Homo sapiens: one gene and its partners. The protein of the gene in region 2 purifies or fractionates together with the protein of the main gene of each other region. This does not show direct contact. Each region holds a gene or a part of one and is shown on either strand. Other genes may lie near its edges.

What was found.
Region 1: the proteins of REPIN1 (region 2) and POTEB3 purify together in Homo sapiens (co-immunoprecipitation; one large-scale study listed by IntAct). This does not show direct contact.
Region 3: the proteins of REPIN1 (region 2) and CEP83 purify together in Homo sapiens (affinity purification with mass spectrometry; one large-scale study listed by BioGRID and IntAct). This does not show direct contact.
Region 4: the proteins of REPIN1 (region 2) and RALY purify together in Homo sapiens (affinity purification with mass spectrometry; one large-scale study listed by BioGRID and IntAct). This does not show direct contact.

What each region holds. Positions count from the first base shown.
Region 1 is NC_000015.10:21,419,934-21,423,499, forward strand, and holds part of POTEB3 (POTE ankyrin domain family member B3), read right to left. Parts: intron 2,258-3,566; coding exon 2,187-2,257; intron 786-2,186; coding exon 741-785; intron 1-740.
Region 2 is NC_000007.14:150,367,467-150,371,649, reverse strand, and holds the start of REPIN1 (DNA-binding protein REPIN1), read right to left. Parts: upstream 2,829-4,183; 5' UTR 2,748-2,828; coding exon of another isoform or gene 2,709-2,747; exon of another isoform or gene 2,617-2,708; intron 2,561-2,616; exon of another isoform or gene 1,980-2,560; 5' UTR 1,939-1,979; coding exon 1,782-1,938; exon of another isoform or gene 423-1,781; coding exon 1-422. UniProt on the Homo sapiens protein: Sequence-specific double-stranded DNA-binding protein. Binds ATT-rich and T-rich DNA sequences and facilitates DNA bending.
Region 3 is NC_000012.12:94,372,802-94,376,367, forward strand, and holds part of CEP83 (centrosomal protein of 83 kDa), read right to left. Parts: intron 3,217-3,566; coding exon 3,085-3,216; intron 1-3,084. UniProt on the Homo sapiens protein: Component of the distal appendage region of the centriole involved in the initiation of primary cilium assembly.
Region 4 is NC_000020.11:34,083,148-34,085,450, reverse strand, and holds the end of RALY (RNA-binding protein Raly), read right to left. Parts: 3' UTR 567-2,303; downstream 1-566. UniProt on the Homo sapiens protein: RNA-binding protein that acts as a transcriptional cofactor for cholesterol biosynthetic genes in the liver. Binds the lipid-responsive non-coding RNA LeXis and is required for LeXis-mediated effect on cholesterogenesis.

The sequences.
Region 1 (3,566 bases), on a different chromosome or scaffold from region 2:
CTTCAGAATCTTATATATGAATTTACCCCATTTGACTCGTGGGAACACAAAAATAAAACGACATAGACACAAAATGTGTCTTCTGTCTTTACCACCTAGATTTTACATTAAACACTCAGATGTAGAGGATGAGACACTGGGGGGCTTCAGGAATAGAAAGGAAGATGGCCCTTTTCTGCACTAAGATATTCTCCTCTCCCACTGCCTTTGATCGTTCTTTTTTCATTTGGTTCCTGGATATCAAAAACATGATGGTGCTCACTGAAACATGAAAACCAAAGTTTGCCACAACACAAGGAGCAGAGTGAAACTGCTGAGGTGCAAGCATGGAATTCCAGAAAATTAGATGCTCCCCAAATTTCACATTCAATAGCTATACAATTTTCCAGCTGGAAATTACAAAGAATAAGTAATTATCTTCTTTAGCCACATTATCTAGTGATAATCAGACTAAAACCAAGAAAGATAAAAGGATTGGTCCAAATCTCCTAAAGAGGCATTACCTAGCATTTTATGGCACCATTCAGGATTGTTCCATAATAATGAAAGAATCTCTCTAGGGTTTGTATCTCTTGAAAACTCAATGTACAGAATTCTTTCTGAGTTAAATATTAAATTTTTCACTGGTGATTTATGCTACTTACATGATAGGATCATGTATGCGTACACTTACTACACTTTGTTAAACAGCATAACATAAAAATCTAATTCCACAGAAACATTTGAACATAAAGGTATACCTCTCTATCACAGTCCTTATTTATTTCTGGTTCTTGAGACATTTTCTGCAGATGCAAAAATAGAAGGTTAATTTGCTTGTTGTATTTCCGTGTATGTCTCCTCTTTTGGAATGCATGTTAAAATAATTTTATTCTTAAGTAATCAAGTATGGACATGAAAAATTAGAAAATAAAATAAAATTTAACTTAAAATAATTAAATAAATAAATAATTAAAATTAAGAATTAACTTTTTAATCTATGTTTAGCTACTGCCACATCATTGGCTTCTGACTAACATGGGAAAATAATTCACCTTAGACAAAGGGAGAATAAAAACATGAACCAGCAAACTTAACTTTGTCACCATTTGTTTGGACTAAACTTAATTTGTTATGTGTTAAATCTACCAAAAATGAATTAGCAGATGATTTGTAGTGTTCCAAGGGCTTCCTCACTTGAAAAGAGTATATCTCATGAAACCCTAACTAGTGAGCCCCTATAGTGCACTGAAGTGCTTTTTAAAAAGATTCCTAATTGGATTGTAGGCACGCTTTAAATTATTAGGAGCTGAAATCAACACCAAAGAGGAAGAAATGCAAATTCTTAAATTTTAATTGAAATTATATGCTGTAATATGATAGTGTTATGTATCTAGATGATCTGCTTAAGTCCAGTTCTAATATATTCTAAGGTGTACTAATTACAGTGGATAAAAATTTTTTAATAATCTGTACTGATTTTCTGCAACTGAAATAAGGTAGAAGGTTATTGTGTTTGTGCACTAACACCAAATGTCCCATTCTGCAAGATATGATTCTTGTAATAGGCAGTTGGGTTGCTTTTATGACCTGGTTCCCTCCCTGAACAGAAATGCTGAGGTCAGTGAGAGACCACAAGGCAGAATATGTCTTTAACCTTGGTATCTGTGACTGACAATATAAAACTGCAGATTTTCAATCACTGGCCGTGATTATTCTTTAACCATGAATCCAGCTCAGGGACCTTCAGTGTTACATTGTTCACAGTTCTATTGCTTAATAATATAATCCAATAATTGATGGTACTTTATCATGTTAGGGTGTTGTAAAAATAAAAGAACAAACAAAGGTCTGGAATATGTTTTTGCCTCTATTCCAAAAGGAAAGATTAGCTATAAGCTAATCAAAAAGGCAGATAAGAATATTTTAAATAAGAATACCATAAAATAAGAGTATTTTAAATTTTATAGTGGTTACGTTTTTAAGCTAAATATCAAATGTCAAGTTAGAATTTATTAATTCTTCTGTTAATGAGATTGCTGAATTTATTAAAATAAATTTTAAGAATCTATTAAAAAATTCTTAAAAAAAGAATCTATTGATTCTTAAAACCTAGTCTGAAAGGTAATTTCATTTGGACTATCTAATATTATTCAAGCAAAGAAAACAACATTAAATCAAAAATTTAAACTTAAAATTTTCCATGCCTCTGGCTGGCTATTTTCACTGACTTTAAGCCTTTGTGACTCTTCCTCTGATGTCAGCTTTAAGTCTTGTTCTGTTGAGAAATCCATATATTCAGTTAAAATGAACCACTTAGAACAGTTAAAAACTATTGCCTTTATAAAAATAGATTGAAGACAACATTTTATTTTATTTCATAAACTGAGTGTTTAGTCTTTCATGAAATAGTTACTTAGGAAATAATTCTCCAAAACTTCAACAAACCACTTGGGGAGACACCTGATGTGATTCACTCACAAATTCATCCACCCAACATAAATGAACAAAACCACCAGAAACACAACTTTAAAATACAGTAGAAACATATAAGGTAACTCAGTATGTTGTTCACTTCCTAATAGTGAAGCAGTAAATGTAAAGAAAAGGAAATTTAGTTTTAAAGAGAAACAAGTTTTCCTGCACTTAGCTAGTCTGACTCTAAGGATAGTAACAAGCAGGCCCAGGAAAGGTCATGGTGACCCTGTCTGAGAAGCCAGAGCCCACAGGTATGGGCTCCAGACATCCCAGAGCAAGGTTAAGAAAACAAATTCCTTTACCATCTCCCCTCCCCCTCAGCATTTATTCATAGCTATTTTTACAAATGCATATATTTTGCAAATTCTTGTTTTCCCTCAATGCAGCTGCAAGGTCGCAAGCTATGCAGTGGTTGCAAAACTGTCACTATATGATTAACTGCCTTTGTTCTGCTTCTATAAGTTTGCCTATATAAGCCAAGCCCTGTCTTTGTTCAGGGCTCAGCTTTTTGATGCAAATCCGCTGAGCTGGTGTGCACCTAAACAAAATCCTCTTGTTTGACCCACTGGGTCTCTCCTGCCTCCTGTTTTCTGCAAAAATAGTACCTTACAAACGATTTCCAAAATTACTACTGACACCTTTATTAGTGTACAATGTCTTCTTAACATCTAAAATGTTTCCATCCACTATTATGACAAATTTATTTTCATTTTTCTTTTTTTTTTGTTTTAGCTGGGGTCTTGCTCTGTCACCAGGCTGGAGTGCAGTGGCACAATCTCAGCTCACTGCAACCTCTGACTCCCTGGTTCAAATGATTCTCCTGTCTCAGTCTCCTGAGAAGCTGTGATTACAGGCACACACCATCATGCCCAGCTAATTTTTGTATTTTTAGTAGAGATGGGGTTTCACCATTGGCCAGGATGGTCTTGATCTTTTGACCTTGTGATCCACCTGCTCCAGCCTCCCAAAATGCTGCAATTACAGGTGTGAGCCACCACACCCAGCCTTGTTTTCATCTTTTAAAACAATGCTATGGGAAGTCTTCCTTGATTCTGCAGATCTTTCCCCAGATAAACAGGTAACTCCTTCCTTGAGGTTGCCTTAGGACC
Region 2 (4,183 bases):
CCGCAGATGCAGAACCAGGGCCACCCAGCCTCGGAAGCTCTGCCCACAGAGGTGGCAGGCAAAGCCCAGGTCTGGGGTGGCAGCAGCATGGACCTGGCGGTGCAGTGCTAAGAAGGGGGCATGGCGAAAGCGACGGCCACACTCAGGGCAGGGCAAGGGCAGCCGGGCCTGGCACCGGCGGGTGTGAAGCCACAGAGCCACCCAGCCAGGGAAGTGCCTTCGACAGTGGGCACAGCGATGGGCCCTGCCTGGGGCTTGGGCACCAGACTGGGCCACTGACGTGCCTTGTTGCCTCAGCCCGCGGGACTCCTTCCCCAGGGTCTGGGGTGACTCCTGGGAGGGCCCAGAAAGGAGTCGGGGCTGGGCCAGGCCCATGGCCAGGGGGCCCCTGCAACGACGTTCCAGCATCGGTTCTTCCTCTGCTGAGGGTGGAAAAGCACAGTCACTCCAGAGACCAACTCACTCTGCCCCTGTTTCTCCCCTCCCAACCTCAGCCCCGGACAGGAGCTGCCATCTATGAACCCCTAGAGCCCCGGACATGGAGCTAGACTACTCTCCTGTTTCCTTGTGTGGTATGTATTATTTCAATCTTGGGTTTTTAGATAACATTTCAAGGATGTTTGTCTTATGTCTTTGTTGCCCTGGAAACTTCCAGAAGGGAGGGACTCTGATACTAGAATCCCCCTCATGGCAGCTACCCCAGTGTCAGACAGGGAGTAAATGCTCCAGTGCTGAATGCACAAACATTCCTGCCACAGGACTCACCAGAAAATGTGGCCACTGCTCCCTACAGTGCCTTATGCTGCCCTCTCCCTGTGTCTGCTGTTTCCTATGCCACATCCGAGCTGCACAGCAACTCTGAGAAGCTGGACAAACAGACACTGAGCTCCCTGTTTAACAGATGAAGCAACTGTGAGACATCAAAGATGACGAGACCTGCCCAAGGTGACACAGTAAGCCAACAGCAGAATCAAGACTAGGGAACAGGTCTTTAAACTCCCAGGCCAGTGTTCTTTCCTCTAAAGCGCCTGGGTTTGCAAAGATCTCAGAGAAAAAGGTGTCTATAGCTTTTCATTCCTAGCCCCACAGGGGAGGCACTTTCAGCATCACTAACTGCAGTCTCCGTAGGAGGCTGGAGGACAAGTGAGAACAGCCCTTCTCGGGGAACAGGAGCAGAGCCCTGGGTGCTACTCCCGGCAGTCTAACGCCAGACCACCGCCTGCCCAGACTGTGCCCCCATTCTGCCCGCCTGCCCTCTTCCACCCACACAAATTAGGACATTGCAGGAAGGAAGGCTCTCCCTGAATCCAAGGAACACCCACAGCCTGCTGCCCTCGGGGCCTGATCACCGGCTCTGCCTCCCTCGGGGTGCTGGAGATTACTGGGGCAATAGAAGGGGAGGGAAGATGAGACTGCAATCTCAGTCCCCTGCCCGGTCCTGCCCCAACCTCGCCAGGGGCTGCCCCATGTTCAGCTCTTCCACAGCTCAGGGGAGCCCAGATTCCTGCACAGGAGCCTCCTCCGCGGAAGGAGGAAGGAAGCAGTTAGGCTCCTAAGGGCCCTTCTGTGCCTGCTCACAAGCTCCAGACACATCCTTCTAAATTCCCTAGAGCGCACTCTCTCTTCTCAGGGAACACAAAGGTCACTCATTCCCAGTGTCAGACTGTGCACAGGGAAGACCCCAGGATATGAGAAAGGGCCATTTCCTTCCGCCGGGATGGGGACGCCCGTGCACCCCTGTTGTGGCGTGGTTTGGGAGCACAGCAAAGGCCAGACTCTACCCTGGAGACTGCAGAGCTGGGGATGAGGCTTTTTCCAGCTCCTCTTGGGGATGTTCCTGGGGATACTTCCGCGGCTGCAGCGCCTGCTTCGGCCCACACTCCGGTAGCCCCCAGGTGTTAGAGAAAACTGCAGTAATAAAGACACCCCTATCCCCATGGCAGAGCTCAGACCTCTGACTGCAGAGAGGCCAGCCTTACCTGTGGGGAGGGAAGAGAAAACAGAAGTGAGGCTCTGAGCTCCTCTAGGGCAGTCAGCTTTGTGTCCTCACCAGCCACAACCCCTCCCCCCACAAAGCCACACGCACCAGCCATAAGCCCCACATCCTGCCTGGCAGAGTGACCTTAATGGACATTGGATTAATAAATGAATGTGCCCCTTCAACAAGGAAGCACACTGCTGTCTTTCGGGGTCACTTTCTTCCCTGGTAAGGTCACGGAACGAATTCTCCATTCTGTGGCCAGAGTCTGGGCTTTCCCTGATGGCCAAAGGCCGGCCTATGGCAGGAACTCTGGAATCCCTGCTGGCTCCCCTTCCCCCAGCCTCCTCCCGACAGGAATTCCAGGCCTATTTCCCATGGGGCTGCGCAGGGCCAGCTGGTGTGACCACGACTCCGTCAGAATCCCCTTCCGCATCGCGGCTGGCCGCGGGTGGCAGAAGCCCCACACCGCCCTTTTGTACTGATGCGTGTCCTCCGTCCACGCTCCCGGGCACACGGGTCCCGTTCTTGCGAGTGAGCCATTTCGGGTCCCACGCACGGCGCAGCTCGCGGAGCCTGTGCGCAGGTGCGCTCCCCCACCCCCGCAGATCCAGCAGCGTCCCCCCCCGCGCACTCACACACGGTCGCGCACACTCACGGTCACGCGCCCCGCAGGTGGAGCGGCCCCCCGCGGGCCCGCGGTGGCCCCGCGCCCCTGCCCCGGCCGTACCTCTGCGGCGGGCTGTGCAGGGACGCGGCGCCCGTCCATGGAGCCCGAAGGCCGGCCTCCGCGGCCCACTCTCGCTCCCCGCCCCGCCGCGGCGACAGCGGCAGGTTCGAGTTCACAACTGCCAGGCCCGTCCCCAACCTCCCCCCGCCGGGTTCCCAGCGCCACGTGACTACAGGAGCTGCCGAGGGTCAGTCGCCGGCTCCCGCGGCCGCGGCCTGGGGGCGGGGAGGGACTGCCGGGGCCGGGGCGCGGGCGCCCCCGCCAAGAGCGGGCCGGGTCACTCAAGCCACTGCCGCGCCAGGGCGGCAGGCCTCGGAGGGTCGGACTCCGTTGCCATGGCGACCACCAGCCCGGGTTTCTCTGGGACTGGCCGGAGCTCAAGTTTCCCGACCCTTTGTCCCTGCGGAGCACGCGCGTCCCCGGGCGACCGCGTGGCTGGCCTATGGTCACCGGGGTGTTCGGCCTTAGCTGCCTTATGAGAGGCTGGGAGCCCGTCGGGAGACTTCAAAGAGGGCTCCGGCAAGCCCCCGGAGCGTCGTTGCCCGGGCCTTTCTCAGGCCGCGCACCCCGGCCGCAGTGCGGACGCTTGCGGCCGCGGCGGTCCCGGGACGGCGGTGGCGCACCTGGAAGGCCCTAGCTTCCGATTTGTTCCAAAGTGGAGCACAAAAAGGCCCGATCCTGCGAACTTTGAAAAGGCCTCTCTTCACTCTTTTCTAGAAATTAAGAAAGAGCAGAAGTTGCTGGGCTTCCTCTGGCTGCGGGCCAAGCGTGGGGCGACGGCCGAGGTGGCCGTTGGCGCACGTGGGGCATTTCGCTTGGAAAGGCTCAGCAGCCTGTGTGGCGTCTGCGGTGGCAGGTGCGAGCCTGTGCCCATGACTCACCCACTAGCAGGTGGCCCTGGCTTTCCAAACTAAACACTTCCTGGGGTTTCCAGGGTAGTACAATTTCATGTACTTTCATGCTTTTCAACACAGGCAATTTTTGAATTGTATAATTAGTCGTAAAAATACTTTTTAAATCTATTGCATAAATAGGAAATAGGGGAACATAAAACTCAGTTTTACCTCGTAGAGTCAATTACATTTAATATTTTGGTATGTTGCCTCCGGTGTTTTCTCTACGTATATCCATGGCATGTCTGGCATAATTGGAATAATGCCTTGCGAAGATGTATTCTGCCTTCTTCACTTAACACGATCTTGTGAATTTTCTTCCATTTTATTAGATATTCTTTTAAACATGATTATTTATGGCTGTATAAAAGGAATATATTTTTTAAATGTTTTCTAAATTATCTTCCAGGAAAACGTATTAGTTTTCCCTGAGAAATGCCCATTTTCCATATACTTGACAACACAGACTTTTTTAAAAAAAAAATTTAGTTTGAAATGGTTATTTCTCATCTTTTGTACTTGCATTTCTTAGAGTACTAGTTAGCTGGATTGTTTTTTCACATGGTTATTTTTTGCCAGTTT
Region 3 (3,566 bases), on a different chromosome or scaffold from region 2:
ATGCTCAAGCAATTTACCTGTCCTCTCTGCATTCAAATGTACTCATTTATGGATCTAAAGTTTTTCTTTATTGCCTTATTTCTATTATCCTAACATCACTGATGCATCACTTATATGAACACTGTTAATTTCCTAAAAATATACTAAAAGGAATTTTACTTAACGTATGAAAATGTATTACCCAGTAATGACAAATAATAGCACTTTTCTATGAGTAATCTGAACCAAATTCCAAATGTTACAGTAAAGTTTCTTTCTGCCCCTAGATCCTTGGTTCTTAATCTTCTTTGTGATCAAGTCCCAAATCCTAGGAAAATTAGGGATTTTTTTTTTAAATAAAATGCTCATGTTAAAATGTTGCATAAAATTTCAAGCAATTCATGGTCTCCTAAAGCTCCACTGGACCAAGTCACCCTGTTCTTCACAGAATGTTTGCCATATAGATTCTGGCCTTTATGTTGTGAATTTGCTTTATGTTTTGACACAATGGAAGTATTCAGATATTACTAACAAAACTTTAATAAATGTCAAAACTGGCAAAACTGGGCATTTTACAGGGGGTCAGTATCTGTTAAAGTACACATACTCACAGAAAGACACACAAGAGCACAGCATAAATAAGCAAGAAATGGAAATATAATTGACAATATGTATTACCTAAGAAGCTCTGGATACAGATTCCAAAGAGATGGTACTTAAATCTTGATCTTTTTCAAAGTTCTGAGATGTAATTACCCAATTAATTTAGGTAAATAAGGACAACTCTGTTGGGTGGCTTTCTTAAAACTACCTTTTATTGGCATTCTGAAAATGAAAAACCTTATGAGGGAACTAGAAGAATTTACCTCACTGAATGTGAAATCTCTTTAAGGTCATCATTTTCAGGCCATCTTTGGTAATACCTTTTAATCCAAGACACTGATACTCACACTGACATAACTTTGTTCTAAAATCTGACAAACATTTATGAATTTGAGTAACTAAGACAAACACACCCCAGGTGTTCCTTTGCACTGCAAACAACCATTTGCTAGAATTGCAAAATGTTGATGAAAACTTCAAGTTGCAAAGAAAACTGTGGCAGTCATGTTTGAAATATTATTTTAAAATCTACCCTTCCAATGGAATCTTTACATACAAGACTTCAAATGAAACTTGGTTTGTTTAAAGTTGAAGGATGGTATTTAATACTCCATTTATATGCAAAATAAGGCAAGTGTGCCTTTAAAAAGACAGGCAACTCTTAGCAATGTGTATTAATAAACAAGCACAGAGAAATAAATACTATACTAGATTGCTGTTCTTTCTTCAGCGGAGTAGGAGAAATCACCTAGGCTCTAACTCTAAGAGGAAAGAGCAATAGGGAAGAGTATATATATATGGAAAAAAAGAAGAAAAATCAGGGTCAGCACACAGGTGAGCTAGGGAGCTCAGGTAAAATGTACTGCATGAAAAGTATTATACTTGGTGGCCCCCCCAAGAGAGAAGCCACAGCAGAAGCCAGCACATCCCATGTCCTATTGCGACATCTGTGGTTCCAATTATTCCAGCAGTGTAGTCTGGCTACTCAGGTCAAGAACAATGTGCTGCAAATACTACGTACTCAATATTATTTCACAAAATTGAAAATAATTTATACTGGAATTGGAAGAAAAGCATGGAAACTCCCCATATCCTGAATTTACTTGTGTTTTGTATCTATTTTTTTGTATACTCTATAGTTATAAGCTTTCAATGTGTATCTGTTGAATATATAATCTACTTACAGTTAATCAGGAGGCAATCAAATTATTTCCTAGTAGTTCTTACACAGTCTTAGTAGGCTGGAAGGGTTCTTACAGATATAAGGAAATTGGATCCTAATGATATTAGGTAACTTGCCTTAGGTTACACATAGTTATTGAGACAGTGAGACACAGACTAGTCAATGGACTAAAAATTCTGTATTCTTTATGTTACAATATTTTCTTATTTAAGGATATCACCAGTGTATAATCACTGCTATTATCATTTTCATCATCAGCTACATTTAATTTTTGCCACAACTCTGTAATGTAGGTATTAGTCCCATTGCATAGACAAAGGCACTTAAGTTTCAGAGAGACAGTGAACTGCCCAAGGTCACACAGCTTTTTTTAGTAATGAAAAAATCAGAATTTGAATCCAGTCTGTTAAGGAGAATATAAATGTAGATCATGCTGCTACTACTAATTTATTCATTGAAGAAATATTTGAGTACCTACTATGTGCCGGCACCATTCTAGAAGCTGGAAAAGCAGTAGTGATGAAAACAATGTCCCTGCTCTCTTGGAGCTTACATTGGGTTGAGGGGAAGGTGGTGGGAAAGAAAAGGAGAGACCAAAAAATAAAAACCAAATAACTATATCAGATAGTATTAAGAGCTATGAAGCAGGTAAGGAAGACAGAGAGAAAGACAGAGGAAGAAGGAAGATGCTGTTTTACAATGTGAAGACAAGGAAAGCCTCCCTGGTTAGGCAACATCTAGGTGGTGAAGAAGCAAGTTATGTGGATACGTGAGGGAAGACTGAGCCAAACTCAGACAAGTGCAGAAACCCTGAGCAAGATGTGAGTTTGCTCAAAGAGTGAGAAGGCCAAAGGGAGCAAAGTGAACAGGAGGAAAAATACAGGTCATGGCTGTGAAAAGACTGCAGGATCCAGATCATACAGAGCTCTGAATGGGTAGAAAGCAGAAAGACCAGTTAGCAACCTAGCACAGAAATGGAGCCTAGAAAAATCATGGCTTGGACTGGAATAGTCACAGTGGATGTCATAAGAATTGATCAGATTCTGCATGTATTTGGAAGGTAGAATGATAAAGGATTAAAAATATTTCAATACAGAGAACTAAACACAAAATTTGTCACTGTACAGTATCAAGCATTCTAAAGAATGAAATAGAGGCATAAGATAACATACTCTACTGATCAATGTATTTATTTCTTAGAAGGCAGAATGATATAATAAAACATTTCAGTATAAAGAAATCAATTATTAAAAATAAAATTTATCATTATATACTAACAAACATTCTAAAGAATGAAACAGAAACATAAAACAACTTACTTTACTGGACAATGTATTTATTTCTCGTTCAGCTTTATGCAATTTATTAATTAAAAAGGTATTTTGTTCACTGCTTGATTGTAGCTCTTTTTCCAAACGTTCTGCCCGTAAATTAGCTGATTGTTTTTCAGCCTTTCATACAAACAAAATAGTTTAAAATTCATCATTTTTCAAGTATTTCAAAATCAAATAAGCACTATTTAAAATACATTTATAATTATACTAAAATTATTCAAAACCTCAACTTAACATATACCAATGTAACAAAAATTTTCTCAAACTAATTGGCAGAATTCAAACGAAAGATAGTGTTCCAGGAAATATGCAACAAAGGCATCTAGACAAACAACATATGAATGACCATCAATAAAATAAAGTTTATACACTTCTCTCACGACAGAAAGTACCTAAGGCATTCATTTGATGTCTATTTACTCTTAACACTGACTTATTTCAAACATTTTGGAAGTTTCCAGTCTATA
Region 4 (2,303 bases), on a different chromosome or scaffold from region 2:
ACAGTTATTAGATGGGCATCTGTACCTACTCCCCTGGTGTTCTTGGGAGGAAAATGAGTTAGAGGTGAAGATTATGGAGCCATGAGTGGAGTCTGAAGCCACGGATGAAGTCATCCAGGGAGCAAGTACATAGAAAAGAGGGTAGACAGATGCAGGCATATGGGTAAGAGTCAGCAAGAGACGGAGTCTTGCTCTGTCGCCCAGGCTGGAGTGCAGTGGCGCGATCTTGGCTCACTGCAAGCTCCACCTCCCAGCTTCACACCATTCTCCTGCCTCAGCCTCCCAAGTAGCTGGGACTACAAGCGCCCGCCACCACACCCGGCTAATTTTTTTGTATTTTTAGTAGAGACGGGGTTTCGCCGTGTTAGCCAGGATGGTCTCGGTCTCCTGACCTCGTGATCTGCCCGCCTTGGCCTCCCAAAGTGTTGGGATTACAGGCGTGAGCCACCGCGCCCAGCAACAAAACCTATACTCTTAACCTAGCCCCCTGAGAAGCACAGCAAGCTACTGAACCTCTGTGGGCCTGTGTCCTGGTTATCTACTGATACAACAAATCACTCCAAAAGTTAGCATCTTCAAACAACGTTTTATTATCTCTCATGGTGCTGGGCTTTGAATGGCATCAGTGAGGCAGTTCTTACTTTGTTCTCAGACGGTGGCTGGGCTGGAGTCATCTTGAAGCCTTCCTCTCTCATGTCTGACATTTGATACTGCTGTCAGCTGAACATGTACACGTGGCCTCTCTGTGTGGCCTGGGCTGCTTCACAGCATGGTGGTTGGGTCCCAAGAGCTAGAGTCCCAAGAGATAATAAGTGGAAGCTGCTAGTGCTTCAGTCTGGGACTGGGAGACTGGCAGAGCACCACCACCATCATATGCTATTGATCGGTCACAGAGTTTAGATAAAGGCGAGGATAGGATAGAGATGCCACCTTTACTTGGGGCCATGCTTTTAAACCTCATCTACAAAATCTATAGAATAGACATAACCACACAGTGGATGCCTGTTTTTGTTAGCCAAGCCTTGCTCTCCTTTTGGGGATTCTCCCCTCTGTCCCTCTATTCTCACAGGCCCTATGGCCATGCTCTACCACTTCTTGGAACCTGCCCGAAAACCAGATTTTTTCCCCTTGAGTTGGGGTCTCGCTTTGTCACCCAGGCTGGAGTGCAGCGGCAGGATCATGGCTCACCGCAGCATTAACCTCCTAGGTGCAAATGATCTCCCACTGTAGTCCCCCAAGTAGCGGGGACTACAGGCACGTGTCACCATGCCTGGCTAACCGGATTCTCGATGGCAGCTTTTGAACCCAAGTCCCCATGTCTGAAGATCCCTGGACTTTACAATTTGTGAGCCAATAAACTTCCTCCCACTAAGCAGGACTGAATTCAGTTTCTGTAACTTGTAACCAGAAGTCCTTACTACACCTACTGAGGGTGGTTGTGGAGATTAAGTAAATGTAAAATGTGCTTTTTAACAGCAGGTGTTCAGGAAATGGTTTACTGTTATGGAGGAAGTTTATTATGAAGAATCTGGCTACTGGTGGAGGGATTTTGATTTGCCTAAAACCTCAATCAATCAATGATCTGGTTGGGATGAAAACCAAGGATGCCTGGCTCAGAATCTTTTGCTCTGCTTTGCCTTCTCTATTTCTGTGGTCTTGTCAGACAGGCCTACTGCATATAACATCCTATGGGGCAGGTTATGACCTTACGGGTCAACCTGGCCAGGGATGGCAAATACCTGACGCTCACGTGCCCACACTTGAATTCCATGCTCATAAGAGAAACTGCCAAACTATCATGTCAGTATTTCCAAACAGTCTGAAAATTGCTGCAGATCCTCAAAAGGCACTCCAGGCAGCTGCTACTAAAAGTTCTGAGTTGGCAAGTGAAATGAGTCCTGAGGTAGATTTTTTAAATATGGCCATATTTTGAAGCTCCTCCTGTTAAGAAGAATTTGGGCTTAGCCATGTGACTTACTTTGGCCAAAAGATACGTCATAGCAATATCCTCAAGAGCACTCGCATACTGGGCTTGTCTTCTCTTGCGGTTTTTGGAACTCAGCCATGATGTCTAGAATCCTGGGTCAGCCTGCTAGATGCTGGAACGTGTGGCCCAGTTGCCCAGCCAACCACCTGACAGGCGGGCGAGGCCATCTGAGACCAGCCAGTCCCCAGCTGATCTGCCAGCTCACTTCAGCCACACGAGGGCCCAGATGAGATAAGAACCACCACACTGAACACAGCCCAAACTGCCAAGCCACTCACTCAGGAGCTAATAAATGTTTATTAAGGCTACTAAATTT